Regions from separate parts of the Homo sapiens genome. Here regions 2, 3, 4 and 5 are each linked to region 1. Evidence: fine-mapped QTL for protein levels in blood plasma. A gene starts in region 1. Each other region holds a variant in brackets. All regions are shown on one strand. Distances are between the middles of the regions.

Evidence for each region. PIP is the posterior inclusion probability: the model's chance that the variant is causal. The UK Biobank Pharma Proteomics Project read protein levels with antibody pairs (Olink). The fine-mapping took linkage between variants from a reference panel, not from the people measured, so its PIPs are less certain.
Region 2: its variant is fine-mapped to the plasma level of the REG1A protein (UK Biobank, PIP above 0.99).
Region 3: its variant is fine-mapped to the plasma level of the REG1A protein (UK Biobank, PIP above 0.99).
Region 4: its variant is fine-mapped to the plasma level of the REG1A protein (UK Biobank, PIP above 0.99).
Region 5: its variant is fine-mapped to the plasma level of the REG1A protein (UK Biobank, PIP above 0.99).

What each region holds. Positions count from the first base shown.
Region 1 is chr2:79,117,864-79,122,968 of GRCh38, forward strand. REG1A (regenerating family member 1 alpha) reads left to right here and starts at 2,625. Exons shown (of 6, transcript NM_002909.5): 1 at 2,625-2,651; 2 at 2,953-3,062; 3 at 3,699-3,817; 4 at 4,125-4,262; 5 at 4,978-5,089. The coding sequence starts at 2,999.
Region 2 is chr2:79,067,686-79,072,790 of GRCh38, forward strand. No RefSeq gene overlaps it. Among named protein-coding and RNA genes, the nearest start is that of REG1B, 18 kb to the right of the region's middle. The variant A/T (reference allele first, on the strand shown) is at 3,090.
Region 3 is chr2:79,094,371-79,099,475 of GRCh38, forward strand. No RefSeq gene overlaps it. Among named protein-coding and RNA genes, the nearest start is that of REG1B, 8.9 kb to the left of the region's middle. The variant A/G (reference allele first, on the strand shown) is at 2,392.
Region 4 is chr2:79,100,382-79,105,486 of GRCh38, forward strand. No RefSeq gene overlaps it. Among named protein-coding and RNA genes, the nearest start is that of REG1B, 15 kb to the left of the region's middle. The variant T/G (reference allele first, on the strand shown) is at 2,662.
Region 5 is chr2:79,159,504-79,164,608 of GRCh38, forward strand. REG3A (regenerating family member 3 alpha) reads right to left here and starts at 250. Exons shown (of 6, transcript NM_002580.3): 1 at 225-250. The variant C/T (reference allele first, on the strand shown) is at 2,845.

The DNA.
Region 1 (5,105 bases):
TTAAATTTAGAAAAAATCTCATATTTTAAAAATATTTATTATAAAGTCATATGCATACATATGTTCATTGCAGCACTGTTCACTATAGCAAAGACATGGAATCAACCTAAATGCCCATCAATGATAAACTGGATAAAGAAAATGTGGTACATATACACCATGGAATACTATGCAGCCATACAAAAGAATGAGATAATGTCCTTTTGAGGGACATGAATGGAGCTGGAGGCCATTATCTTTAGCAAACTAACACAAGAACAGAAAACCAAATACTGCATGTTCTCACTTATAAGTGGGAGCTAAGTGATGAGAACAATTGAACAAATAGTGGGGAACAACACACACTGGGGCCTTTTGGAGGGTGGAACATGGGAGGAGGGAGAGGGTCAGCAAAAGTAACTAAGGGTACTAGGCTTAATACCTGGGTGATGAAATAATCTGCACAACAAACCCCCATTACACAAGTTTACCTCTGTAACAAACTTGCACTTGTACCACTTAACTTAAAATTAAAGTTAAAGGGTGGGTGTGTTAGCTCACGCCTGTAATCCCAGCATTTTGGGAGGCTGAGGCAGGCAGATCATGAGGTCAGGAGATCGAGACCATTCTGGCTAACACGGTGAAACCCCATCTCTGCTAAAAATAAAAAAAAATAAAAAAACTTAGCCGGGTGTGGTGGCGGATGCCTGTAGTCCCAGCTACTCTACTCGGGAGGCTGAGGCAGGAGAATGGCGTGAACCCCAAAGGCGGAGCTTGCAGTGAGCTGAGATTGAGCCACTGTACTCCAGTCTGGGTGACAGAGCCAGACTCCATCTCAAAAAAAAAAAAAAAGATTAAAGTTAAAAAAAGAAAAGAAAACATTATGCCATAAAGTATTTTTATCTTAGATTTTTTAAAAATTAATTGCTTGTTTAATTTTCACAAGATAAATATGTAATGATACCAAGTATACCCGACTCTTCCCTACTATATCCTTTGTTAACGGAAGAATATTTCTGAATCTCTTATTTATAGAAAAAAATAGGAATCATTCTCTGGTTGTAATCATTTTAAAAGGTATAACTACTTTTTGTAAAAGCAGAAAAAATTTGGATTAATTTAACAAATGCATATGAACCAGTGAGAATAAACAATGTTAACATTTGTCATCTTTGTTTAATATCGTTAGTTTTTGTTTTTATTTTTTGAGACAGTTCCCTGTTCTATCACCCAGGCTGGAGTGCAGTGGCACAACTCACTGCAACCTCTACTTCCCAAGCTCAAACAATCCCCCACCTTAGCCTCTTAAGTAGCTGAGACTACAGGCATGTGCCACCATATCTGGATATATATATATATATATATATATATATATATATATATATATATATATATATATATACTTTTTTTGTAGAGATGGGGTCTCGCTATGTTGCCCAGGCTGGTCTCGAATTCCTGGGCTCAAGTGATCCTCTCATCTCAGTCTCCCAAAGTGCTGGGATGACAGGCTTGAGCCACCACACCAGGCCCATCATCAGTTTTTATATAAAGAAAAAAAAACCTTAAAATTGTTAGGCAAATACTATGACAAATTGTAATATATATTCTTACATTTCAGATTTTTATTTTTTAAACTGTATAAGAATTGATTAATAAATAAAATTTAGTATTAATCTGTCTTTTAAAACCATATATAAAGTTTATCAAATAGCTTATAACTTCTTGCAACTGAATTTTTGTATTCAATGTTATGGCTTTGATACTAGTCCAAGTTGAAATATAGATATCTACTTTATTCGATTTAAATTCTGTTTAGTATTTTATTATATTTTGTTAATCCATTTGTCCCAATTCATATACTTATCTCTCTTTCTGTGAATATTCAGGTTAGTTTTTTCTTCCTAATTTTGCATTCTGATTGGCTTTTATTCCCTGAATTATAAATGACTATTCTATGATGATTCTGGTAAATACTCAATTTCACCACACAATCTTTGACTTCATACTAACAAACAGTTGACTTCAAATGGACAATTTCAATGAAGCCTGACTTCATATTTAGCTCCTTTAAGCTTCCTTAGGCATCAGCTCTCTACAATTCTCACATTGAGAATATGTGTATTTTGTTAGCTCAAACCTTGTTAGACATGTTAAATGTTTAGAAATATAAATTTAACCTACCCCTTGAGGTAGGTCTTGAGAGGTTTGTGAGCCTAAAAAGACATGGAGGAACCACTTATTGCCACAAGCACATTGTTCTAAATTATTTGGAATCAGTTAATTCTTCCCCATCTCCTACCCATGCCTGACACCAAAGAGGAGCCTCTAAATTTACAGGGAATACAAGGAAGTCTACTGTTCTCTGCTCCTCTCTGGGTTATTAGGGCACATGGGAGCCCTCAGTTGTTTTCTGCTGAGCAAGAGCAAAGTCCACCTTGGACTTAGACAGCTTGCCAAATTTTTTGCCAGAAGGGGACCTGAGTTGTGACCACTCCCAGTGTGTGCCGGGAAAAGGCTCGTACTGGTGCCAGAATCTCTTACTGTCAATGCTCCCAAAACTCACCGCTTGCCCCCACCCCTTTTGCTTAAATGACGTGGTTCTTATCTCAGATCCTGATATAAAGCTCCTACAGCTACCTGGCCTGAGAAGCCAACTCAGACTCAGCCAACAGGTAAGTGGGCATTACAGGAGAAGGGCGTCTCTAACATGCACTGTAGATCTAAAATCTTCGGGAAGATACAGCATGAGTTTCTGTCCAAGAGGTTTTAGCTGTAATGAAGCCTCAGTGGGATCCAAAGTTGTTTTTCAGTTACTGAGTCTGTATAATCCCCACTCTCAAGAGAAACATTTGAAGGTGTGGGTGTCTCAGAGGACCTTCCTGGTCTCAGAAATTCTGAGAGGAGGTTTTAAGGAAGGTAATAGGTGCTTTGCTCTCCATCTCTCAGAACCCCCTTCTCTGTGTTCTCCTATAGAGATTGTTGATTTGCCTCTTAAGCAAGAGATTCATTGCAGCTCAGCATGGCTCAGACCAGCTCATACTTCATGCTGATCTCCTGCCTGATGTTTCTGTCTCAGAGCCAAGGTAAGATCTCTTTTCCACCAACCAACTCTTTCTAGCCCTGAAGACTTCACTCTATCCCCAAGCATACGGGTCTACTTGAAAAAAAAAAAAAAAGCAGAGTCACTGTTAAGGGTTGTTTTGTGGTGTTTAGTGATCTTTATTGCTGATCTCTTCACATTTATATACATCCACACCTCATTAAGGAGTTGGAGCTAGAATTTAAAATGACCCCTTATAAGCAACTGCTGCAGTTGGCATGAGTTTATCTGATTAAATTTATACGTGATGGTGGATTTGGGGATGTCTGTGTGTAGACAGTCACTAATGGGGTGGAGAACTGAAGAGAGCCTTGTGTTCAGGGAAACCAAGTCAGGCTTGAGAAAGTAGAAGGCTGAGTCCTTCAAGGTAGAAGAGCCTGAGCTCCAGACATAAAAGGGAAACTGGAGACTTGTTTCTTTGGCCTATTCATTCTGTTTTTTTTCCCCTGATCAAAGAAACCAAAGACAGAAGATGTAGGATGCAGGAGCAATAGTGAGCAGTCATCCCATAATAGACTGGATTCTTCTGTTTCTATAAAGGAACCTCAGAAGCTCTTACCTCACCTTCAAGCCTTTTCCTTACCCTGAGAGCCTCCTTTAATTGTCTCTTCTTTTTCAGGCCAAGAGGCCCAGACAGAGTTGCCCCAGGCCCGGATCAGCTGCCCAGAAGGCACCAATGCCTATCGCTCCTACTGCTACTACTTTAATGAAGACCGTGAGACCTGGGTTGATGCAGATGTGAGTGAGGAGAGCAGTGTGGGAAGGGAGACTCATGAAGGGAGGGGAAGCTGCCACTCTCCAGTGTGTTCAGTGGCTGCAATGAGATGAGACTGAACCCCTTGCTATACTATCATCAGCCCCAAACTTTCCAATCTACTTTATCCCATTATTCAGCACATTCCCAGCACAAAGAACCTGGTGGTCAGTGACAGCATCATCACGGACATTACTCTGCTGTCCTTTTTCTGACCCGTCCTCTTGGAGGACTCAGTATATCCGTCACAACTTCCTCCTCCACTGAGTGCTCCATTTTCTTCTGCAACAGCTCTATTGCCAGAACATGAATTCGGGCAACCTGGTGTCTGTGCTCACCCAGGCCGAGGGTGCCTTTGTGGCCTCACTGATTAAGGAGAGTGGCACTGATGACTTCAATGTCTGGATTGGCCTCCATGACCCCAAAAAGGTAGGCTGCAGCCTTCTTTATCTCCTAATGATCAGGTTTGAGAAGTAAGAAGGAGGTTCAAGTTCTGGTCTCTTAAGTACCAGCTTTTATCGCTTTCCAGAAATCAGGCTGTTTACAGATCCTCTAATGTCCTGTGTAGCAAGGTGCACTGTAGATGATTGGAGATATAAGTGGAAGGCTGAATTTCCTAGGTGTTCTTGTCATTCATGAATAAACTTATTCTGTTTTCAGTCAACAAAGCATCTTTATGCACCAACTTCTTACCTATTTTGTTACTGTCAGAGTCACAAGAGAGACTAGATTGCCGACTATATAGGAAAGGAGACTTGTGGTAAAAATCTGCTGCTGTACTGCTGGCATTTGGGAACCTGGTAGTATACTAAATAATATAATATATCAACAACTAATGGTCAGCCAATGCTATGCTGGATATGAGGGTCCTGGGCCACAAAGACAAAAAATCAGGAACCACTTTTTAAGTGAGATACTTTGGGTCTCTGTCAAATTCATAACACTTATTTCTTGGTGGAATACAGTTAATGAGTTGGACAGTTCAGGAAAGAAGTTTAGAGCAATAGCAAAGGAAAGGAAACAATATTTAGCAAGGTTTATTCTTCCTTTGTGTCTTAGCATGTTTCTGAGTGTGCACACAGGCCCAGTGATTCCATGTATTTTTGAGTGACCACTGCCTCTGTTCTGGCCCTTCCCCATCTAGAACCGCCGCTGGCACTGGAGCAGTGGGTCCCTGGTCTCCTACAAGTCCTGGGGCATTGGAGCCCCAAGCAGTGTTAATCCTGGCTACTGTGTGAGCCTGACCTCAAGCACAGGTGAGAGGCAGAGAAT
Region 2 (5,105 bases), 50 kb before region 1:
AAATTACAACTATACAGGTTGGGGTTGGCTCATTAAAATATTTAGCTGAGGAAGTTAATCATGCAGACATATGTAGAAGTATGTTCCAGGAGGAAGGGACAGCCATGCAAAGACTTAATTGAGAGAATGCCTGGTGATTTCTGCAACACAGTCAGGGGTGGAAGAGTTAAAAGAGCAGAAATAGGACCGAATCATGCTGCATTTGCAGGCTTTCACTGAGTGAAGTGAGGAGCCAGTATATGATTTTGAGCAGAGGTCTGAGTACATTATCTCACTCATGTTTTAAAAGGCTCCTGCTGGCTAGTTAGTAAACAGGACACACAGACAATGAGGTAGAAGCAGGGGACCAGTTAGGAATTACTTGCAGTAAATCAAGCAAGAAGAAGATGGGGCTTGAACACAGCCCTGGAGAAGTTGGGAAGTGGCCCAGGAGAGATCTGTTTTGAAGGAAGCATCAACAGGAATTCTTGAATATGGAGTGGAACAGAGCATAAGAGAGGAATGAGCAATGGCTTCAAGGTTTTGGCTGAAGCTACCGAAAGAATGGATCAGTGAGATGGGAGAGGCTGATATTGGAGCAATGTTTTTTATGGGGTAGGAGAAAGGCGGAAATCAGGTGTTGAGTTTTGAACTTGAGTTTGATGTATCTATTAAAACATTCACATTAAGACTCCCAGAAGGATGATTTGGAGGTTAGGGTGCAGTGAGAGAATAAAGAAGAAAAGGGAAGGGAAGAAGAGGTTCAGCAATTAAGAATTGCAATGTCTGACATCGAGGCTAAAAAAAAGAGCAAGGAGTAGCCCCAAAGGAGAACAAAAGGGTGGCCAATGAGGTAAAAATGATATCAAGAGATTGCGGTGTCCTAGAAACCAAAAGGGCATCTAGAACACATTAGGAGGCCAACAAAAAATACTTAATGTAAAAGCATTAAGCTCTCTGAGTCTTAGATTCCTCACCTGTAAAGGGAGGGTATACATACTTACTTCAGGATTACATGAGATGAAGCGTATGTAGGATGAAAAGTGGTCCCCAAGCTATCATGTTCCAATTCCTACAACCTGTAATTGTGACCGTATTTGGAGAAAAAGAAAGTCTTTGCAGATGTGATTAAGGATTTGAGGACAGTGAGATAATCCTGGATTATCCTGGTGGGTTCTAAATGCAATCACAGCTGCTCTTATAAGGGAGAGATTAGGCTCATACACACAGAGGAGAAGGCAATGTGAAGGTAAAGAATAAAGAGATTTGAAGATGGTGGCTGTGAAGATTGGGGTGACGCAGCAACAAGCTGAAGAAGGCCAGAAACCACCAGCTGCTGGAAGATGCCCCACTAGAGCATCTAGAGGAAATGTGACCCTGCCAACCTCTGAACTTTGTCCCCACAATACTAATATCAGTCTTCTCTCTTCCAGAACTGTGGAAGGATACATTTCTGTTGTTTTATGCCACCAAGTTTGTTACAGCTGCAAGAGCACACTAATACAATATGTAACAAGCTGAACAGAATCTTGAAAGACCTTCAGTGTGCACCACCATTATCCATTCCTCCACAAAGATGGTTTCACACATGGGAAGAGACTACTAAGGAAGGATCACTGATATCAATCTGAAAGGTGGCAAAACATCTTTGAAAAGTGTCTGTGAGAGAATGGCTCTCATGCTGGGGGCCGGATTTGTAGAAGGATCTTTAGACAGCCCTCAACATCAATAGCATTCTACAGTTTAAACCACACTCAGCTGGGGTTGTTTATACAAAATGAAACTGGCAGAATCTTCATAAGGTGAGTCATCCTTTTTATAGTCTTGCCTATGCTTGCTGTTCTTACCTTTATTCTGTTTTATACCATGGGGCACCATATTGTTTTCAGAATGATTAGTATATTTCACTTACTTCTGTAATTTTTGGCACTAGATTCTCTTCTTTTTAACTCCTCTTTGTACAATACACATATTTGATCCATGCATGCTTAACCTTGTAAACCTTGTTTCTTCTCATCTAGAGGCCATCAAACTCCAAAGAGTCAGGCAACTGGAGCCTCAGATGATGGCTCCCATTTGCCAGGGACCCTTAGATAGACCTCTGGGAAGAGTCTGACTGCCATTCTCCCTCCAAAAAATGCCCCCTGTCAGAAGAAATTAGCTAAGACTGGTCATCATCTGTATTCTTACATCAGTTAGATGTGTGTCTTCAAAGATGGGAAATGATACGGACAGGAAGCAGGGAAATTCTGGGCAGAAGAGGGCAGATCCCTGGTGAGGGCCCCACCCTCAAGCCTGGAACCATGGCCCAAAGTGAGAACTTGAATTCCTGTTTTCCTGCTCGAATGTTGCATTTTCCAAAACCACCCATGGCCCACCCCCCACATCCTGTGCCCATAAAAACTCCAGGCTCAGGTGGCAGAGAGAGGGGAAGCAGCTGGATATCAGAGACTAGAGTTGGATGTCAGAGAGAAGCAGCTTGACTTCAGAGGGGCAGCTTGATGGCATAGCTTCAAAGAGGGGTCTGGCTGGGGACAGCCAGTCTTCAGGGGACAATTACCTTCCCACTCTGTCCCCCTTTCAGCTCCCTCTCTGGCTGAGATCCACTTTCGTCAGCAATAAAATCCCCTGTATTTACCATCTTCAATTCATTCATGTGACCTGATTTTTCCTGGGTTGCAGATAAGAGCTCAGAGCCACAAGTGTGAATGCAAAAGTCTGTCACAATGACCCTCCATTGACATAAGCCATCCAGGGATGGCAAAGCTAAAAGAACACTGACCATAACACTCCCTCTGGGGCTTCAGGGGTCACAGGCACCCCCCTAGATGCTGCTCTGGGGCTGGTACGGAGTTCATTCCTGCTGGTGCCCAGTAGCACTTGCCCTGGCTCCTGCACCTGCTCAACTGCATGCTCCCCCAACTGCAAGGGGTTGAGAGCTGTGGGCTAAGTGAGGCACCCCTGTTGTGAGGCTTGTGAAGGGGTCAGGGAAATATCCTGCTTCACTAGCACAATATGGAAAAGAGAGAGATTTAAAACAAATAACAACTGACAAAGTTCTCTCATAAAAAATATTTATTGCCCCAATAGCTGTATACCCATTAAGATAG[A/T]TACCTTTATTGCTTACATATGTAGCAGGCCAAATTTCACATGTATGGTAATAAAATTAAGGGCATTTATTGGCAGTCACTTTGGTTGCAAAGTCATGCCTTTTTCAGGGAAGTCATATTTCCTGTCCCTTAAAAATGTATCTCCTTGTCTTCAGCAGCCACAAGGTCCTATTCTCTGACCTAGTTTTGCAAAGTTCTAGGAAGCTCATTTCAGGTCTTTCCCATCATATTTTCTCTGAGAGTATTCTGATAGATGAAAGGGTGAATATGTCCTACACACCTAGTGTTAATGCCTCCCCAAGTGGGGCAATTCCTTTGTAAGCCTCCAATAACATTTAGGAAGTTTCAAATATATAGATGATATTTTATGTTACTGGCCATCTTCCAGAAGCTATTTGCTGCTTTCTAACCTTATAATCTAGATTTTAAACTTGCTGTGGAGAGATACTCACCCTCTTGTTTACATTCTTGGCAGGCAATGTGAATAACAGCCTTTCTGCTAACTTCAGACTGGAAAGAAAAGGAGCTGAGAAATTACCAGATGCACCAAGGATCTTCCACGGCCTGATGTGTTCTGTAGATGTAAGAAAACCTCCTTATAACTTAGCCTCTTCTGCTTCACAGGAAAGCTCTAGTTTATTTTAAACAAACTTACATCGTATGGTCTCTATGCCAGGCACTATTCTAAATGCTTGACAAACAGGAACCCACTTAATTCCCATGAAATCCTAAAAACAGAGGTGCCATTTGCCACCATATTTAACAGATGAAGAAACTGAGGGTCAGAGAAGGCCTAAGTAATTTACCTAGGATCAAGCGGCTACTATGTATTGAAGTGAAAATCAAACACAAGCACAAGTTTTGCTCTAGGGTCATTTAGTTATCACAACTGTCTTTCTGAGATCTCTCTAGTTTTCTTCACATTCAATCCATTCAGCTCTCTGAAGCCTTACTGGATTCGGTAAAAACATACCGATGAATCATAGCCATAGCTGCGAGCCCCACAGGAAGATCTTAAAAAGCAAATAAATATGAGGCACTACGCACCCAATCCTTAGCACACAATTAAATTTGACTTTTATATTTACCGGTACCACAATCGTTTTTGTGTGTGTTTGGAGGCATTGAGAATTTTTTTTTTTAAATCTTAGCACAGATATGACCAACCTCCAACAAAATTCACAAACAAATGGGATCAGATAACACTTGAAGTTTTAATGGAAACTTGAAAGGCAGGAAGCAAGTCAGGACTCTTCCTCTCTTTTTGATATCTCAGGACTTGTCCATGAAAATAAAGGACATAAAAATGTTCAGAAAGGACTAAACTCTTAGAATAAGCCATCCAAGATCTCTCCCTCTAAGTCTTGCACCCTTGAGCAGTCAAAAACACATAGTGTATCGAGACCCCATTATTTGCTTTTTAATTTGAGTATGGAGTCTAAGAAAAGTTGTGAATTCCTCAAATCCAAAAAGAGAAGCTATTTTCCTGTGAATCCCTCTTTATAAAGGAAGTCTTAAATTGCAATTCTAAGCAGAGGGCAATGAGAGAAGTTCACAGGCCCTATAGAGGGCACTGATGCAAGGAAAGCCCAGCATCAGGAGAAGCCTCTTCCAGGCACATCCTGGGAGTGGTCACACAAGAGGTCCCTTCCACAAACAACTTGGCAAACTGTGAGAGTCAAGGGCAGGCTTTGCCCTTCCCCAGCAGCAATGAGATGCCCAGTTCCCATGGCCCTGAGCAGCCCAGGAAGAAGCAGAGATCTTCCAGGAATGGTGATAATGGGTATGAGGGAAGGACCCTGGGAGGAGGGGCACTGAGTGTGTGAGCCTGGAGCAGGACCATCTGTGAGACAAGAGAGGCAGCAGGATAAGATGTGGAGCACCCTGCTTGGGGCAGTGGAGAAATGGAGAGACACAAGTTCAGGGCGTCTTAACATTATTCATCATGGAGGCCTCCTCTCCTGACCAGGCATGCACTGAAAGGAGCCTGTGGAAATAGAAACTCCAATGGAAGAA
Region 3 (5,105 bases), 23 kb before region 1:
TAGGGCTACTTGTTTGGCTACCTGATCTGCTAAAGCATTTCCCACCGATATAGGATTGTCTGGGGTTTGGTGGCCCCTGCAATGAATGATGGCAACTTTCTGTGCGAGCCGGGCAGCTTGAAGGAGCTTGCTGATGGGGGAGTCATTTATGACAGCGATATTTTTGGCAGTTAGGAAACCCCGTTCTTTCCAGATGGACAAGTGTGAGTATACTATGTGGAAAGCATAATGAGAATTTGAATATATGTTGATCTGTTGTCTGGTTGCTAGAGTGAGAGCTCGAGTGAGGGCGATGAGTTCAGCTTTTTGGGAGGTGATGCCTAGGAGGAGTGGATTGGCTTCAATAGTGTGTGTGGGGGTGACACTATAGCATAGCCAGCATGCCGGCGTCCTTGATGTAGGAAGGAGCTGCCATCTACAAACCAAGTAAAGGAGGCATCTGGAAGATATTGGTATGTTAGATTTGGAAAAGGTATAAGAAAGGTTTGAATAGTGTTCAAACAGAAGTGTGTAGGGTCTTGGGTGGTTGTAGCTTCAGGTAAGAGCGTGGCCGGGTTTAGACGGGAGCTGGTTAGCATGGTGATTTGGGGGCTTTCTATGAATAGAGCATACAGTTGGAGGAGCTGTGGGGCAGAGATGAGACTTAGTACACTGTGGTGAGCTAGCATGTCTTTGATGTTATGGGTTGAATAAACTGTTAGGTTGGCATGGAGAGATAGTTTTAGGTTTTTAAGGGTGAGGGCAGCAGCTGCCATCAATGCTCGGAGGCAGGCAGGCCATCTGAGAACTGTGGCTTCAAGCTGTTTAGAGAGGTAGGCAACAACCTGGAGGGTGGGTCCCTTAGACTGGGTTAGAACACCCAGTGTAACTTCACACTGTTTGTCGGTATAGAGGGAGAAAGGTTTGGTGAGGTCTGGGAGAGTGAGGACGGGGGCTGAGATGAGAGCCTTCTGGAGTAGATGGAAAGGTTGAGTAATAGGCTGTGCAGGTTTTAAAGGCTCATGGAGAGGGCCTTTAGCAGCTTGGTATAACAGTTTGGCAAGTACAGCCAAGGAGGGAACCCAGAGTCTAAAATATCCTGCTTGTCCCTAGAAAAGAGAGAATTTCTTGCTTAGTTTGCAGAGGTGGGAAGGACAGGAGGAGGGAAATGCGGTCGGTTGTGAGCCCTTGGGTACACAGGGTAAGAGCTAGGCCTAGATAGATGACTGAGGGGGTGCATATTTGTGCTTTTTTAGGGGAGACTTAATGCCCCCGTTCTGCCAGGTTTAAAAGAGAGAGATAGTATGGGCGTTGCAGTCTCTTTGAGAGGTGCTACGCAGGAGCAGATCATTAACACATCGAAGGAGAGTGGACAATTTTAGGGATAAGGTACAAAGGTCGCAAGCAAGGGCCTGTCTAAGAAGGTGGGGGCTGTCTCTGAAACCTCGAGGTAGTACGCACCAGGTGAGCAGAGGTGAAATGTGGGTGTCGGGGTTTTCCCACATAAAGGCAAAGAGGTTTTGGGAATTAGCGTGCAAAGGAATTGTGAAGAAAAGCATCCTTTAGGTTTAGAACAGAAAAATGGGTGGTATTGGAGGGAATTGTGGAAAGTGTATGGATTAGGAACTACTGAACATACTGGAAGTACAGCTTGGTTAATGAGCCTGAGGTCCTGGACTAAGCGATAAGTTCCAGCTAGCTTTTTGACAGGTAGAATTGGTGTGTTAAAAGGGGAGTTTGTTGGGCGGAGTAGGTGACTGGCAAGAAGGCAAGAAATGATAGGCTTTAGGCTCATGAGAGCTGCTTGGGGGATGGGATACTCCTTCTGTGATAGGAACTGGGTGGGCTCTTTAAGAGTAATGTGGACAGGGGTGTGGTGTTCTGCAACTGAGGGTGAGCAAGTATCCTAAACAGCAGGATTAACTACGGATGGGGGATAAGGAAAGGTTGTGTGTTTTAGGGTGGGAGGTTGAAGGAGTAGAAGAAAACTAGAAGTACTGGAGGGGTCTGGGTGGATGTGTTGGGTACTATGGGGAACGTGGAAGTGGAGAGTAGTGTGGAGTTTTGAAAGGACGTTTCGGCTGGGCACGGTGGCTCACACCAGTAATCCCAGCACTTTGGGAGGCCGAGGCGGGAGGATCACGAGGTCAGGAGATCGAGACCATCCTGGCTAACATGGTGAAACCCTGTCTCTACTAAAATTACAAAAAATTAGCTGGGCATGGTGGTGGGCGCCTGTAGTCCCAGCTACTCGGGAGGCTGAGGCAGGAGAATGGCATGAACCTGGGAGGCAGAGCTTGCAGTGAGCGGAGATCGCACCACTGCACTCCAGCCTGGGTGACAGAGTGAGACTCCGTCTTAAAAAAAAAAAAAAAAAAGCAAGAAAAAGAAAGGATATGTCTGCCTGGGAGC[A/G]GAGTTGGGCATGAAGGCAAGACTAACAAAGAGTGAGTGAAGGAAAAAGTGTGCAGGGAGTAGAAAAGTGGCAGGTGGCTCAGGGTTTGGAGATTTGTCCATCAATTCCCACAACAGAGATTTGGGAGGACTGGGTGGGTCCTGAAAAATTAGGTAAAGCAGAGTAGGTTGCCCCAATATTAATTTAAAAAAACATACTGGCCTACCTGCCACCATCAGGGTTACCCTTGGCTCTGATGAAGCAATGGTAGTTGCTGGGGCATCCGTTCCAGGGCACCGTCAGTCTTCAGCGGCAAGACCAATGAGATCTGAGTAGGAGGTTTTGGCCGGCTCAGGAAGGGATGGGGGTGGTCCTTGCAGGGGCCACTCACAGTCCAACTTCCAGTGGAGTCCTCTGCAGAGGAGGCATGGTCTGGTGGGCCTACCTGGATTTGGGCATTTTCTGGACCAGTGGCCTTTATTGCTGCACTTGAAACATGTGCCAGGTGGAGGTGGATTGCTTGGAGGCTTCCGTGTGGAGCTGCGGCCCTGGGGGCCTGCAGGGCCCCTGATGGCAGAGGCAAGCATTTGAGACTCTGCCTGTTTTTGCCTTTTACTTTCCTCATCACAACTGTTAAAGACTTTGAAGGCTAAATTAATAAGGTCTTGTCGTGGGGTTTGAGGGCCATCGTCAAGCTTCTGAAGCTTGTGCCTAATATCACGGGTGGATTGGGAAATGATCTGAAGGTTTAAAATAGTGGTTTCTTCTGGGCTGGCTGGGTTTATGTTGGTATATTTTCTCATGGCTTCAGTTAAACAAGAGAGAAAAAGGGCTGGGTTTTTGTCAGGACCTTGGGTGATTTCTGAAAGTTTTTCATAGTTTACCACTTTATGGGCACCCCTTTTGAGTCCTGCAAGGAGACACATAATTATGTGGTCTTGATGGCGCCATCCAGAGGCCCCATCTTAATAATCCCAGTGGGGGTCCTGGCTGGGGACTGCCTCTGTGCCAGTAGACAGGGCAGGAGCTTGGTGATGAATTGTATTAGCATGTGCCTGAGCTAGGGTCCAGATACGGTCCGGTCCTGGTCTTCTGGGGTGAGGGTGGAAGAGAGGATAAAGTAGAGGTCATGCCAGGTTAGTTTATAAGACTTGGTAAGGTACTGAAACTCTCTAATATAAAAGGTAGTGTCTTCTGGAAATGAACCGAGTCTTTTGTTAATTTGAGAGACATTAGTGAGGGAAAAGGGAACATGAACTCTAACAATACCTTCAGTTCCTGCCACTTCCCAAAGGGGGCATTCTAGCGCAGGCGCCGAAGTAAGGGTAGGGTATGGGCCAAAGATGGTGCCTGAACAAATATGGGTGGGAGAGAAGAAAGAAGCCAGAAGTGGTTCCTGCTCAGGGTTTGAAGGGGAAGGGGGGTTGAGTTGACAGGCAGTGGACGATAGATAGGGGCATAATGTGGTGGGATGGTTTTACAGGCTTCAGGAGAGCGGAGTGAAGAAGGAGAATTAGTACAGACAGTGCTAGAGTTGTCTTGAGGAGAGGATGTTGTAGGAAAAGAAGTGGGTACTTTTGGAGGTGATGCCAGCTGGGAAGATGGTGGCTGAGAAGACAACAAGGAGGTTTGGAGGGTTAAAGAAGACAGTTGAGAGGAAGAGGTACTGGCTGGGAGGGGTGAACAGCAGTCAGCTGGATAGAATGAGGAAAAAGAGAGAGGGTCGGGGGAGAAAGGTGATCAGGGCGGCAAGAATGGAGGGGAAGGATTTGAACAGGTAAGCAAGGATTGCAGAGGTCGGGTAGTGATCTGAGTGCACAAAGGCCTGGACATAAGGAATTTTTCCCCATTTTTCCAGTCGTCGGCAATAATTGCTCAAGTCAGTTAAAACTGTAAAGTCAAATGTTCTATTTGCGGGCCATTTGGATCCGTTATTTAATTTGTACTGTGGCCAGGCTGTATTGCAAAAAGAAAGACAACGCGCTTAGGGCGGATATCTTGCCTGAGGCCTAAGGTTTGCAGGTTTTTTATGAGGCAGCCTAGAGGGCTGTTTTTTGGAATGGAGGATGGGGAGTTTTCCATAAAGGAGGGTAGGCTGGGGAGAACAGGGAAAAAGGAGACCGTCCTGGACAGCCAGAGGGAGATGATAAAAGGAGCAATTGTCACCGCTGCCTTTTTTGTTCCCGAAACAGGATCAAATGGCTAAGAGGCATCCACTTAAGACCAGATGATCAGCGAGTGCCTGACACGTGCTGGAGCCTTCTTGGACCAATGTTGGATTTTTGGACCAGAGAAACAAAAACAGGCTGTGCAGATTTTTCCCTGTTAACGGGGCTCCCAAGGAAACTCAGCAGTAGGCAAGATCAGCGACTGATGTGCATGCATAGAGAAGTGACTGGAGACCAAGGAGCTTCCTTTGTCCAGCTGCTGTGGCCTGCTTTCTGGGGTGGAGGGGTAGGTCCATGGAGGATGCAGACCTGAGCCCCTCCTGGGTTTCAGCACCAGATATAAGGTTTTTATATCACTTCAAACCCCGAGAGCGCACCAACAGCTAACAGGAGGCAGTGTGGAGCAACATGCTGTTTTAATGAGCACCTGGGTGCAGGATGGCTGAGGCCTAAAATGGCGTCAGCCCCAAGTGAGGAAGGGGCAAAGGTTTTATAGCCTCCTGTAAACAGGAAGTGTCCTAGTCTGACGTAACTGCTACGTTGGACCCAGATGGCCTGTTTCTCGA
Region 4 (5,105 bases), 17 kb before region 1:
CCTCTTTTTGGCTTATATTTAGCATGCCTGTTTTAGGTATTCTCTGGGGTGTAAAATTTTTCAAACCTCCCTTTTGTCATGAGTTCTTCCCTCCTGCTTATGTTTAGCTATTTGCCTAGCAACCCCCCAACTAATGTTTCATTAGGAATTGTCCTAGTGGGTAATCTCTGTGGTGGCCTTGCACCTGTGTCAGTTCTCTCTTTGAGCCCTGAGGCTCCCTGACACATTTTTTGAAATCTAGCTCCTACAGTCAGCAATCCTGGAGAATTAACATGCTATGGACACCATCAAAACTTGTGCCCTGTGCCTTCTGGAGTGATGGCCAGCACCACATCTGGGCTTCGTTAAGCCATTTCTGAGATGGCTTAAAAGAGCTGCTTAGGAATGCAGGAATCAGAGATTTGAGGAAGCCCTGAGTAGTGAGTAACAAGGTCCCAAGGGCTCTCAAGAGTCCTCTTTTGATCTAATTCTGTTCTCCAGGCATTGGCATTCTGTCTGGGTTTGTGATGGGAGCTAATCTCCTTATCAAAATTTGGCCACACCCTAGGTTTTTCTTTTTTGAATATGCCTTTTCTTTATTTAAAACACAGCCAGACTAAGAATTTTCCAAATCTTTACTTTCTACTTCCTTTTCAATGTACATTTCATATTTAATTTTTTCCCCTTTTCTCAAGTTTTACTATTGACAGTTTAAAAAAGTCATGCAGCATCCTTAACAATTTGCTACTTAGATATTTCTTCCACCAGATATCCTAACTTGTGGTTCTTAAATTCTGCCTTTCGTAAAATGTTGGGACACAAAGACAATTCAGCCATGTTTGTTGCCTCTTGGTAAAAAGGATAACCCTCGGGTCATTGTGCAATACCATGTTCTACAATTCCATCTGGGATCTCATCAGAATTACCTCTACCATTCATATTGCTATTATTCACTTGAAAACCACTTAAGTAATCTCACTGCTGATTTAGGTTTAGCCTATAGCTCTCCTCTTCTTGAGCCCTCACCAGCATAGCCCTTAACACTCTGTTAATAGCAATCTAGGCTTTTTTCTAGCCTGATCCTCTAAACTCTTCTGCCCTCTGCCCATTACTCAGTTCCAAATCTGACACACATTTTTAGGTGTTTTTTATAGTAACAACCCCACTTCTGGTACAAATTTCTATCTTAGTCCATTTTCTACAACTAGAAGAAAACACTTGAGACTGGATAATTTATAATAAACAGAAATTTATTTTCTGACAGTTCCAGAGACTTAAAAGTTCATTATCAAGAAGCTGGAATCTTTCAAGGGCCTTCCTGCTGTTTCATGACATGGCAAAAGGCTGAAGGGCAAAGAAGCAAAAGGGAATGAAACTAGCCATTTTATAATGGTATTAACTTCACCTATGAGAACAGAGCCTTCATGGCTCAATCACTTCTTAAAGGTCCATGTAAAAATGATTACAATGTTCAATTAAATGTCGACATGAGTTTAGAGAAGATAAACTTGATAATTTTTCCTTGATTTTCTTACTATCTTCATTCTTCTGAAACCTGGTTAATATTCATCTCCTCAATTGGCATAATGACATTTGTTTAAAGGTTATATGGTTATCTGTCTTACACTTTTTGTCATTTCATAGCCAGAAATACGTTATCGGTTTAATTTAGATTTGTGAATTTACCTTGCCTTGGAGACATGTCGTTGATCCTCTGAGGAAAGGATCCTTTCACTTGAGAGAAAATCCAGTTTGGGTTTCCAAATTCCACTTCTATTCCTCAGCCTCATATGTTACAGCAATTTATATTCTGCTAGTTTTGTGCCTTCTGTATTTAAAAAGGAGAATGTTGGCCAGGCACGGTGGCTTATGCCTGTAATCCCAGCACTTTGGGAGGCAGAGGCGGGCAGATCACGAGGTCAGGAGATCGAGACCATCCTGGTTAACATGGTGAGACCCCGTCTCTACTAAAAATACAAAAAATTAGCCGGTTGTGGTGGTGGGCACCTGTAGTCCCATCTACTCGGGAGGCTGAGGCAGGAGAATGGCCTGAACCCAGGAGGCGGAGCTTGCAGTGAGCTGAGATAGCACCCCTACACTCCAGCCGGGGCGACAGAGTGAGACTCCGTCTCAAAAAAAAAATGTATGTAATAATAATAATAGTAATAAAATGTTCTTTATTGTGATACATTGACACATCATGTAAATTCTTGCTTATGTCATTAGTGAGGAAGAGGTGATAGATACCAGGTTGGCATTCTTCTAGTTTTAGTTCATTTTGTGTGCTATAACAGAATGAAATAACTGAGATTGGGTAATTTTTAATGAGCACAAATTTATTTTTCTAATTTTTTGAGACGGGGAAGTCCAAGATCAAGTTGTCAGATATTGATGAGATAATTTTTGCTACATTGTTGCATATACACAGAATAAAAAGAAAAATCTATCACAGTATTTGCCTGGAGAATTTATAACTTTTTAAATAAAACTAATAATATTAAACAAAGATGACAAACGTTGACATTATTTATTCTACTTGGCAGGTTCATAGGTGTTTGTTATGTTAATCCAACTTATTTCTGCATTTAGTAAAAATATTTATGCTATCTTACAAGCTTATAGCCAGGTTAAGATATCTTTTTTCTTATAAATAAGAAAGTCAATCATATTCTTCAGACTTCA[T/G]AAAAGATACAGTAGGTAGGAGTCCAGTATACTTGGTACCATAATAAGTGTATCTTGCAAAAAAAATGAACAAGTAATTAATAGTTTAAAATTAAAAAAATTCTTTGTGGCATAATTTTTTTAAATATGAGAGTTCTTATTTACTTCAAGAAGACTTAAAGCAAGCAAAAACATTCCAGATATAAAAGATCTAATACTTTAAAATACATAATGAAATACACTGTAACTGGCATGATATAAAACAGAGAGAGATTCAGTTCAATACTGTATCAACAATTGACACAGTATTCCCATAAAAATCTTTATTGCTACCAGTATCTGGAAACACATTGAGATGTTATTAACTTTATTGCTTGCACATGTGACTGGCCAAATTCCGCGTGCAAGCTAATAAAACTGATACCTTTACCTGGCAGCTACTTTGTTCCAAAGTGATGCCTTTTGCATATAAACTGTATTTCCTATCTGTTCAAGGTTTATCTCATTGTCCTCCAGAAAACAAGGCCCTTCCTGTGACATAGTTTTACAAGATTCCAAGAAGCTCATTTCAGGTCTTTCCCATCATATTCCCTCCAGCAGTCTTCTTGTATATGGAAAGCAGTCTCCTGGAAATCTAGTGTTAATATGTCCTTAAGTGGGGAAACTTTCTGATAAGCCTCCAATAACGCCAAGAAAATTCCAAGGCTATGGCTGATTCTAGGTGCTGTTTGCCATTTTCCAAGAGGTATTCTCTGCTTTCCACCTTTGGAATTGAGATTTTAGACATATGAGAGAGAGATAATCTCCCACTTGTTTAAATCCTTGGCAGGCATGTAAATAATAGCCTGTCTGCAAACTTTAGACTGGAAAAGAAAGGAGCTGAACAAATAACAAATGCAGCAAGGACATTCCATGGTCTGCTGTGTTCTGCAGGTGTAAGGAAACCTACTTATAAGTTAGCCTATTCTGCTTCACAAGAAACCTCTGATTTTTAAACATTAATTTTTGTCACATGCTGTCTATGCCAGGCACAATTCTAAATGCTTGCCTAATTAGAAACCATTTAATCCCCATGAAAACCTAATAATGTAGGTGCTGCTACGAACCATATTTGACACATAAAAAAAATGAAGGCAAGAGAAAGGCTAGGTAACTCCTGCAAGATTAAAACAGCTGCTAACACAGGAATAGAAAACCAAATATTGCATGATCTCACTTAAAAGTGTGAGCCAAACATCAAGTACATATGGACACAAAGAAAGGAACAACAGACACAGGGCCTACTTGAAGATAGAAGGTGGAAGGAAAGTAAGGATTGAAAATCTACCTATCAGATACTATGCATATTACCTGGGTGATGAAACAATCCATACATCAAACTCCTGCAACACACAATTTGCCTGTATAACAAACGTGCACATGTACCCCTGAACCGAAAATAAAATTTTAAAAAACCAAACAGCTACTATGTGTTGGCACTAGATTCAGACATGCAGTTTAGCTCCAGGGCCATTCCCTGAGTTCCCAAAATACTGATTTTCCTCTACTTATTTCCACATGCAACTCATCCAGCTATCTGGATTCTGAATGATTTCAACACATAACCACCCATTGATTATGGTCAAGGACAGAGGCTCCACAAGAAGAGCTTAAAAAGTGAATAAATGTAAGACATCACCCAATTCTTAACCTGCAATTTAATTTGTCTTTTACACACACACTAGCACCACAAACCCGTGTGTGTGTGTGTGTGTGTGTGTGCACGCGTGTGTGTGCTCCTGAAAGGAGGAATTGTTCTTTAGAATCCTCATGGCCTGGTCACCACATAAAAGTCCCACCTCTTAACATTGTTCCAATGGCAATTAAATTTCAACATGAACTTTGGAGAAGACAAACATTCAAACTGCAGCATTCTAGCTGCCTAAAAATCATGTATTTCTCAGGTACAAAATGTTTCATTTCATCCCAAAAGCCCCAAAAGTCTTAGCTCATTATAGTATCCTCTTAAAAGTCTAAGGTCCAGATTATCATCTAAATATAATCAAAATCAGATACGTGTGAAAGTCAAGTATGATTCATTCTGAGGCACATGTTTCTCCAGCTGTGAAATCAAGTAAGTTATGTACTTCCACAATATAGTGATGGGACAGGCACAGGATGGACAGCCTCATTCCAAAAGAGAGAAATGGAAAATAAAAATAAATAATAAGTCTGTAATAAGTCTGTAATAAGCCCAATTCCCACCAAAGCAAATAACATTAAATCTTGAGGTTTGAGAATAATCGTCTTTGGCTCCAAGTCAAACCTTCTCTACATATTGGGGTGAGGGTTGGGCCCCCATGATTTTGCTGGATGCATCCCAGGAAGTAGCTATCAGAGGTTAGAGTCTCTTTTATGCAGCCCTCTACAGGTGGCATCTCACACTGCTGGATCTACAGTTAGGGTTTTGAAGAAAACCCACTCCC
Region 5 (5,105 bases), 42 kb after region 1:
TCTAGTCCCCTAGGACTAAAGTGATCTTGGTCACATCCATCATCTTCTACAGTTCTGAATGAGTTGTGAATCTGTGTACTCTCCCATCCCCGAGCCCTCCCAGGACACCCTTGCTGAGTCTCAGAGTTCCTGTGCTCCCTGAGGAAGGGACCCTCCCATGTATTCTCCTGTGTCATGTGCAGTAGCTCCTCCCTGGGTCTCATCTTCTCTCAGCTCCCACTTACCTCTCTGGTGGGATATGGTATGGTTTGTCTGGTCAGGAAAGAGTGGGATTTTATAAGAGGATCTGGGGGAGGGACATTGGAGTGAAGAGTGACAATGAGTAGGCAGGACAGGGGTCATGGGGTGGGGTTGGCATGGACTCTTCCTGGCAAAGACTGGGGATTTTCCCAGATGTTGCCTCTTTCCTGTTGGCAGGCCAACACTTTCCCTAGGAAGAGGTGAAGTTTGCTTTTTCCTCTGCATCCTCCTTGTCAAAGGCCTGTGGCACCAAATGTGATATGAAATCTTCTAATGTGGACATCTGAAAGAGGAGTTCCTCTGGTGGGTTTCTTAAGAACCCACTTCTGGAGGCAAACCTATGTATTTCTTATTACCTTGCCTAGTAAGATTAAATAAATGTTAGGTGTTAAGTGAAGATTTACGGGAATTATAAGTATCATGGACAGTTGAGGACATAGATGGTACTGAAGCTAAGAGTAGGAGTGAGGGTTCAGGGCCATTATGCAAGCATGATAGCTAATTTTGATGAAACTTCAGAATTGTCTGACAAGTCAATACATGAGCCACAATCTTACAGAAAATCAGGTGAATGGACTTGTCTTTCCAGTCTTCAGCAAGAAAGAGCTTCCCCAGTGGAGAATGACAATGGCAATGTGATAGAATAAGAGGTAATGAAGGAAAACAAGACATAAGAAGGACTACAGTCAAATAATGAGGATCAAAGAAGAATGAATAATAGTTAAAGAAGGGAAGAGCAGCCATTGTGTAAAATCATAGGTCAGTTGGCCAGGTGCTGTGGCTCAGGTCTATAATCCCAGCACTTTGAGAGGCTGAGGTGGGAGGATCACCTGAAGCAAGGAGTTCAAGAGCAGCCTGGGCAACACATTAAGACCCTATCTCTACAATTTATATTTTAATTTAAGCCAGTTGCGGTGGTGTGTGCTTGTGGTCCTAGCTACTCAGCAGGCTGAGGTAGGAGGACCTTCAGTTGAACCCAGGAGTTCAAGGCTGCAGTAAGTTATGATCATCCCACTGCACTCCAGCTTAGGCAACAGAGTGAGAGCCTATCTCTAAATTTTTGTTTTGTGATGTTGTAAACATAATTCTGAATTGCATGTAAGTCTCTATTACATCAAAATGCTCACTACTTGTAGGTTGCTCATGAGCTTCCTTGCTGGACTGCCATTTGGCTGTACATTAAAAGCCCTTTTCATTGCATTCTTACTGGGCAAATGGTCAGCTTCATATGGGTATACTGGGAGAAGTTCTTTTAGTCATGTTTATTTTTGAGTTAGCAGTTTGGTGCCTCTGACAAGCATACTACATTGCCCATACACTGGTTCAGGTTCAGTTTGGCCAGTCCAGGAAAAAGTTAGGCTGGGAATTTCTACAGACCCTGACTCTCATGCTATTGTTGTAATATGCCAACTTGTATGCAGATGTTTATAGTAGGGGTCTGTGACGAGGTCATGAGATGTAGCTCATCCTTAATTCACGTCCTCAAAATTCAGTACCCAAAATTCAATGCAATTCCTCAAATAATATGAGAAGAAATATAGCCAGCAGATTATTTTGTTAAAAAGGATTTTTTTCCACAAAATTTATACAACAATATGTAAACACATGGAGGTACGGGGTAGAAGGTAACCAGAGGGTAGAATAGTTACCAGAGGCTGAGACGGGTGAGGGGAGATGAAAAGAGTTTAGTTCATCGTACAAACATACAGCTAGATAGGAGGAATATGTTCTAGCTTTTGATAGCACATAGGGTGACTATAGTTAACAACAATATGTTGTATATTTCAAGATACCTAGGAGAGAAGATTTGAAATGCTGACAGTTTATTATTAAAACTCACTTTTGTTCTTAATTGAAATAGTGTGACCTTTGTAATAAGCCTTAAGGTTATAAAATCCCTAAGTGCAATGTGAAATTTTCTTTGCAATGACACTCACTAAACTCACTAAAGTTGAGTTGTTTTTGTTTTATTTTTCATTGTTTCTTCATAACAATGCTTATTAACCAAGCACTGAGAAGTTTGTTTAAATATTATATTTCTTGAGCTGGTTTTGAGTTATATAAAAATCTACTTCTTAGGGATGACACAGGAATTCTTATTCTTGATGTAACCAAGGCTGAGTTTTAAGGAGCTTCCTTTGCCAAAAGATGTCCAATTTGTACTTTTATCCCTATTATCTTCTGAATCAGATATTTGCAGATAAGACTTAGTAGTCATTCTTAGAATTATAAAAGTGAAAACTGATCTCTTTGCAGGAGCCTAATATATTTGTTTCAAGGATGGTAAAATGTAGAGGTTTCCTGGAAGATGGCTCAGCAGGGTCCATGTCAAAAATAGCCTTGAACTGTATCTCACTGGAGATTTATCACTAAAGTGCACCCCTTTGAGATATATTAACCAGATGTCCAGAATGCCACTTTGGTCCTTTCATCTTATCCTAACACTGTCAGAAGAATTGGGAAAGGGATAAGATTAGGTGCTGAGCAACTATAAAACAGGAAAAAGGGACAAAACTTCAAAGCCCCTGAGGCCAATGAGGGAAGTTATTAACATCAAAGAACTGGAAAGCTGATAACATAGCTACTGAAATTTGGTCAATTATA[C/T]GTAAGCCATGAACAGTAACTATCATATGACCTGTGCAGTTATTGGAGGCAATAATTTTTATCAGAAAACTGTGTTAATATTTATTTGGTTTCAAATTTTCACATTGATCTTGGAAGAGTTCCCTGTTCATATCATGTTTGCTCTTCTAACGTTATCTATTTGGGTATTTTAAAAAGGCTATTGCTTTTTATTGATTTTTCTTTTAGAATAAGCTAGTTATAATACAAAATGTTCATTTGGGAAAAAATTAAGATAATGTTTTCAATTAATTACCATAAATCATACTCAAACAGCTTGTGGGTGATAATTTTGCAGATCTGAACTGTTCACAATGTATCAGAGTTCACATTTCTTGTGGTAGCAAATAAAAATAAAAATAAGAAATAATTCCATAGTCATGTTGCTTTTCTTTTTGTAATAAATTATCTTTATCATACAGAAAACATTTAACAAACAAGTATAGGTTGACCATCTAGAATCTACAGCGATAATATCTTGCCATCTTTTTTAGCTTTATTTTTTAGAGAAATGAAGCAAAAAGAAGTAATACAATCAAATTAATATTAATAAAATGATAAATAATACATTAATATTAATGATTAATAAAATGATAAATAATAAATGATATAATAAATAATATCATTAATAAAATGATAAATATAATAAAATTATAAATAATAATAATTAATATTATTTTAAAAAATAATATTAATAAAATGATAAATAAATAGTAGTCCATTTATGTTATTCCTCAGTCCCACTTATTTCCATGCTTCTCCATTACCAATTTTATAATTATTTTTCATATATATATATATATTTTGCAGTTGCAAGGTTTAATAGAGTGTAAACAGAGCTCCCATACAAAGGGAGGGGACCCAAAGAGGGTAGCCATTGCTGGCTCAAATGCCTGGGTTTATATCCTGATCATTGTCCCCCACGCTGTGCTCTCAGGTGATAGATGATTGGCTATTTCTTTACCTCCTGTTTTTGCCTAATTAGCATTTTAGTGAGCTCTCTTTACTACTTGATTGGTCAGGTGTGAACTAAGTTGCAAGCCCCGTGTTTAAAGGTGGGTGCAGTCACCTTCCCAGCTAGGCTTAGGGATTCTTAGTCAGCCTAGGAAATCCAGCTAGTCCTGCTCTCAGTCCCCCCTCTCAACAGGAAAACCCAAGTGCTGTTGGGGAGGTTGGCCAATGATTGCTCTAACTGCTTCCTGCTGAACTGGGGTGTAGTAGGGGTTGTGCAGTTGAGATTTCCTCGGGAGAGTTGCCTTCAATGTCATTAACATTGGAGCATGAGGCTAGCAGGCCAGTCCAGGGGTCTGCAGTAGATCTTAGTCATGGACTGCATCTGGGGCTCCATTTGAAGAACCATTTGTAGTTTTACAGCTTCGATTCTGGAAGAGACAAACTTAACAAGGAGGTTAAAGGTACAGGGATTGAAAGGTATGGCCTGCAGTGCAGGGGTTATTTCTTTGGCACACTTCACAGGCCCTGACTATCTGCTTGATAGTTTTGAAAAGGCCTGGTCCAGTAAATAATAATTTGGCCATCTGATGGGTGCTATCAATGTCTAAGTGAAAGTTTTGGTGAAGGGTTTTAAGTAATTTCCATTGGTTAGCTGCAGGCAAAAGTATTTTTCCTTCTTTGGTGGCTAGCCATCCTCAGGGGAGGAAAGTATGTCCTCATGAGGTTCCCCATTCTATTCATCCTGCTGAGTACTGGGGCTTGGTTTCCTGGAGGGGGTTACCCCACACTAGGGGTCCCTCTATAAGCATTTCTGATGGAGGGTCCTGTCTTGCAGCTCTTTTGGCTTCAATATCTGCTTGGTGGTTCCCTTCTATTTCCCTTTCCTTTCTTCTCTGATGACCCTAGCAGTGTAAGACTGCCACCTCTTTGGGTTTCTGTACAGCCAATAATAATCTCCTAATGGCTTCCTGATGGTTGATAGGTTTTCCCTCAGAAGTTAGGAATTCCCTTTCTCTCCATATTGCTGCATGGGCATGGAGGACTAGGTAAGCATACTTAGAGTCTATATGTATATTTACCCTTTTTCCTTCTCCTAATTCTAGTGCTCGAGTGAGGGCTATTAGTTATGCCGGCTGAGCACTAGTTCCTGGAGTGAGGGGATTATTTTCAAGTATTCCATTATCCCTGACCACTTTTCAAGGTCCTTTTTCTACAAAGGAACTTCCATCAGTATACAAGTTAAGGTCGGAATCAGTCAAGGGAACCTCTAAAAGGTCCCCTCGAGCGGG